Linked DNA regions of Homo sapiens: region 1 is linked to region 2. The links come from fine-mapping of genetic effects on gene expression. Tissue or cell type: whole blood. Region 2 holds a variant in brackets; the other region holds the start of a gene. All regions are shown on one strand. Distances are between the middles of the regions.

The links. PIP is the estimated chance that this variant, and not a neighbour inherited with it, causes the effect.
Region 1: EIF4E3 starts here. The variant in region 2 is fine-mapped to the expression of EIF4E3 in whole blood (INTERVAL, PIP 0.95).

Annotation. Positions count from the first base shown.
Region 1 is chr3:71,724,110-71,726,609 of GRCh38, reverse strand. EIF4E3 (eukaryotic translation initiation factor 4E family member 3) reads left to right here and starts at 1,208. Exons shown (of 7, transcript NM_001134651.2): 1 at 1,208-1,418. The coding sequence starts at 1,243. RefSeq lists silencers at 1,484-1,553, 1,684-1,803.
Region 2 is chr3:71,790,207-71,793,046 of GRCh38, reverse strand. No RefSeq gene overlaps it. Among named protein-coding and RNA genes, the nearest start is that of PROK2, 6.5 kb to the right of the region's middle. The variant GTTTT/T (reference allele first, on the strand shown) is at 1,707.

The DNA.
Region 1 (2,500 bases), 66 kb after region 2:
TGCTCAAGGCATGAACAGAACACATGCTAGGCCAGGTAGAAGGTCAATGAGGAGATGGCATCCCACGCCCTTCACTGTTCAAAGCCAGAGAGGAACTATCTAGAAATTCAAGTGTAAAGAGGATGTCCATGCTGGTTGTGACATGTGTGTTCACAGGCCTCATGCCTTTGCTTTTCTTTTGAAAAAGAAAGTGACAGAGACCTGGGGAGATGCTGTGTTAGGAGGGCCCCTCCTACTTTGGGCTCAGGAATCTCACCGCCTAAGGGACTTCCTGGGTGCTCAGAGGTACAGGAAGCAGAGCGCTCTGTGTTCACAGGTGCCCGCTTTCCTCCTCCCGACTCGCCGGTGCTTTAGGGCAGATCTGGATACTTTGGCTGATTTTGGGAAATGTTCTCTGAAGTTAGCCACACGTTAAGCCAGGCTTGAGGCCTTCACTGTGGTCACATGGTAGCTCCAGAGGTTGGGATGGGGGCTCTGGCCCCTTCAAATCAGCGGAGTTAGGAAGTATGCTCTCACCAAGAGGAATGCAAAGCCCACCTGCTCCAACCTCATGCCCCAGTCGGTGGTTCTCTTGTTCGTTCTTCTTTCTCGCCCTTTGTTCTGTACTCGCGGGCACTGGAGTCTCTTTATCCATTTGGCCATCGGTTCCCCTCTCCATTTATCTGTCACACCCAACTGTGCTTCCATCTGCCCTCCATCCCTCCTTCTCTCCTCCAGCCATCTGCCAGCCTTCACTCCATCCTTCTGACTGCTGGTATGTCTGTCCATCCCTCCTTCCCTCGCACCACGTGGGTCTGGGGCTCCATCCCCTGTCCCATCCATCCCTCCATCTGTCCCTAGCCTGCCGCTCCATCCCGCTGCCCTTTTGCATGGCTGCAGAGCCAGCCCGCAGACCGTTCCCCGGTCCCTCTCACCCCCGTGGGCCCTCTAGCCCGTCCCCGGCCGCCACTCCAGGCCAGGCCGTCAGTCTCCCACGCTGGGCCCGCGCCTGAGCGGGATCGGCCCCCCATCCCTCCGTGGGTCTGTCTTTGTTCGGCGGCCCCGGCCCGGCCGTGCCTCCCACGGCCCCTCCGCGCGGCTCCCAGGCCCTGAAGGCGGCGGGCGGCGGGCGGCGGGCGGCGGGCGGCTAGCCCGGGGCGGGGCGGGGCGCGCGGGGCGGGGCGGGGCGGGGGCCGGGGGTGACTCAGCCGCGCTCGCCCCGCGGTCCGCGCGTCCGCCGGCCTTGCAGGCGGGGCGGAGAAAATGGCGCTGCCCCCGGCCGCCGCGCCCCCCGCCGGGGCCCGGGAGCCGCCGGGGTCCCGCGCCGCCGCCGCTGCCGCCGCCCCCGAGCCGCCGCTCGGCCTGCAGCAGCTGTCGGCGCTGCAGCCTGAGCCGGGCGGGGTCCCGCTGCACTCGTCCTGGACCTTCTGGCTCGACAGGTGAGGGGGCGCGGGGCCCGCCGCGCACGGCCCCGACCCGGGTCCTGCCGCCACCGCCGCTTTGTCTCGGCGCGGCCCCTCGCCCCGGCCCCGCTCCGCTGTGGCACAGACCTCGGCCCCTCCGCGCGTCCGCCTGCGCACCCCGGGACTCGCCCCGCCGGGTCGGAAGCCAGCTTCGGGCCGCGCCGGGCGGCTGTTCGGCGTCCTCGCCTCCGGGCCGGGGGAGGACAGCGCAGCCCGAAAAGTTTCGGCAACACTTTCTACCCCTTGTTCCCTTCCGATCGGAACGCGGCGTGCTGGCAGGGCCGTGGGAGAGGGTAGGCGAGCTGGGGGTGGCCGCGTCCCTGCTGCAGGGAGAGGGCTGTCCTGCTTACCCCGCGGGGCGCCTGGGAGCTCAGGACACGACCTCAGCTGTGACAGCGCTCGGAAAAGTTGCCCATCCCTTGGGAGGTGTGCGGTGGTGCAATGATTATTGCACGGCGGGCGCTCCCACCCCGTGTCCGGCCGCTGCTGCCGTGGACTCCTCTTCCAGTTCTTCCTCATCCACTGGGCAGGTATTTCCTGAACACCTACAGTGGAGCCACACACCTGCTATGCGCTGGAGATTCAATAATGAGCAGCAGCTGACCTTGTCAGGAAGGGGGTGAATTATGGCTTTCTCAAGGGACAACCCAGGTGCCATCTTTTCAGAAAGACCCCCTGACTACCGTATCTAAAATAGAAACCTTGCTCCCTCGTTTTGTATTCTCCTGCCCTGCCTTCTTTTTCTTCCTAATGCTTAATGCAGCTGGATTTTATTATATATGAATTTGTTTACTTTCAGTCTGTCTCCCCAGCTCCTCAACACCTCCCCTCAGTTAAGGATAAAAGAGCAGTGGATTTTTGTTTTTGGACATTTTGGACCTAGAACTGTGCCTGGTCCCTAGTAAGAACACCAGAAATTGTTATGAATGAATAGATGGATGAATGCAAAGCCCCTTCTTAGTGTCTGCCCTGCAGTGGGTGCCCAATGATGACACCTCAAGGTTGTCCCAAGAGCATTTGGAAATTTTGATGAAACCGTGTCTATTCTGGCTAAGTGT
Region 2 (2,840 bases):
AAAAAGTCTTTCTCTTGAATTAATATTTCAACTATTTAAAAATAGGTAAACTTTATTTTACATTATCACTTGAATAGACCAAATAATTGTTAGTGCCTCCATAGACAATTGGCTTTCAAATTGAATCTTGGTGATTTATTTTTAAATATAAAGAGAAATCATCAGCTTTGAAAAGATTAAAATAGATGTCTTATTTAGAATTATAAAAGCAATTCATTTTTCATGTCACATTTAAAGCATAGTTATTATATTTAAAAGATATTTCAGACTGATATTATGGGTTTGTTAACAAGAAAAGCCACCATGTAATAGAACAGTGATAAAAGATGAAGGGTGAAAAAAATAAGAATATCTATTTTACTTTTTTGGAACCCTTCTAAATGAAAAATCATTTACACAAAGACAAATGGGACCTAGCTAGGAAATTACCAGACCCACCTATTATGTGAAAATAATTAGAAGTCATACGAAGAAGGTACATACAAAGTAAGCCCTCAGACAAGCTGGAATCATTTTTAAAACCAGAGCAGGCCAGGCACAGTGGCTCACACCTGTAATCCCAGCCCTTTGGGAGGCCAAGGTGGGAGATTGCTTGAACCCAGGAGTTCAAGACCAGCCTGGGTAACACACCCATCTCCATAATTTTTTTTTTTTAAATTAGCCAGATGTGGTGATGCGCACCTGTAGTCCCAGCTACTCGGGAGGCTGAGGTGGGTGGATAGCTTGAGCCTGGGAGGAAGAGGCTGCAGTGAGCTGTGGTCATGCCACTGCACTCCAGCCTGAGTGACAGAGAAAGACCTTGTCTCAAAATAAATAAATAAATTTTTTTTAAAAAATTAAAAATAAAACTAGAGCTTCATGTAAAAGAGTAACAGAAGTTCTCTTCCTTTATGTAGCTGAGATTGTGTCAGGCTTTCATTGCAAGATGGCAGATGGAAGACCCATTTGCTTCCTTTCCCCAATTCTACCAACACATTTATTGAGCACTTACTATATAACTGGCAATTGAGATGAAAGTACACATAACAAGGTGAACATGCAAGGGGTCCACCAGTGAGCCAGAACTTTGGGCAAATTCCCACAACTCAGAAAGCAGATGAATTCCACCAGTAAACAGAGAGAGCCTCAAAAGGACAGCCCAGAACAGACCTAGGAAAAGGAGGTGGGAAACAATTTACTCGAGGGGCAATAATAAAACTCTAGGCTCTTTATGATCTAATGCATGAGTCAGCAAACTTTCTGTAAATGGCCAGAGAGTAAACATTTTCAACTTTGCAGGTCATATAGTTTCTCTTGCAAATACTCCACTCAGCCCTTGTGGTGTGAAGGCAGCCTTAGACAAAACATTGGCAAGTGTAGCTGGGTCCCACTCAAACTTTCTTTACAGGAACAGGCAGTAAGTCTCAGTTTGCCAGCCCCTGATCTAAATTCTTACCACTGTGCCTACATTATATGAAATCTGAAAATTTTAAGGGGAAAATTGCCTGAGTTTTAGCTCTAGCCACCATCTTCTCTGTACCCCGGGTCTGTCTGATTGCCTTTCCCCATACCCAGAGGTTGCCAACACCTCAGCATCCATCTGCACTGTCAATCAGTTATACAAGGTGAATCTTGACGTTTCTTGTCCAGCCTTTATCTTAACCAATGGTAAATTCTACTTGTTCTACTTTGGTTTTTTTGCTGTTTGTTTGTTTGTTTGTTTGTTT[GTTTT/T]AGAAAGAGTCTTGCTCTGTCACCCAGGCTGGAGTGCAGTGGCTCTATCTTAGCTTACTGCAACCTCCCAGGTTCAAGTGATTCTCCTGCCTCAGCCTCCTGAGTAGATGGGATTACAGGCATGAGCCACCACACCTGGCTAATTTTTGTATTTTAGTACAGGCAGGATTTTGCCACGTTGGCCAGGCTTGTCTCCAACTCCTGACCTCAGGTGATCTGCCCACCTTGGTCTCCCAAAGTGCTGGGATTACCGGTGTGAGCCATCACGCCCAGCTCTCTACCTGTTCTACTTTTTAAGTGAGTGGGTTCACCTCTCTCCCTCTTTGCTGCCAACACCGTTAGCAGAGGCCACCTGGACCGCTGCCATGGCCTCTCATCAGGCCTGCTCTCAGCCACTCTCCAATCTCTTCTCTATATTTTTTGTAATTTGTTCAACAAATATTTATCAAGTGCCTACTATGTGCCAGGCATCTTTCTAGGTACTGGAGATAAATTAGTGAACAGAACAAAGTTTCTGAACATCCCTTATCCTGTGGCGCTTAGATTCTGGTGTATGTGTGGGGAGGTGGGGGCAGTAAGGCAACAAAGATAAAACGTAATATGTAATAGAATATGCTAGAAGGTCTTAGTGCTAGGGAAAAGTGAAATATAAAAGGACTAAAAGGCAACTGGCATGCTGGGGCAGTTGCAAATGTAAATAAGGGTGGTTAGGATAGGCCTCCTTGCAAAGGTGAGATTTGAACAAACATTCGAAAGTGACAAGGGAGTCTGCCATGTGGCTATTTGGGGAAAGAGCAGTCTGACAAGGAGAAGATCCAGGACAAATTTCCCAAAGTGGGAGCATGCCCTGAGTGTTCTAGAAACCTCCAGGGGGGCAGTGTGGCAGGAGCAGAGCTGGCAGGAAGACAAGAGGTAGGAGTAGTAAACAAAGTCAAAGATCTGAAGGTCTCTGCGAGAGAAACGAGAAACTACTGCAGGGTTTAGAGCAAAGAGTCTAACTTACTTTAAAAAAAAATAGGTGTTGATGATAGAATGTAGAGGGCAAGGGTGAACCCGGGAGGCCAGTCTTGAGGCAATGACAGTGACAGTAATCCAGGCTGGAGGTGACAGGGGCTCAGAACAAGAAGGGT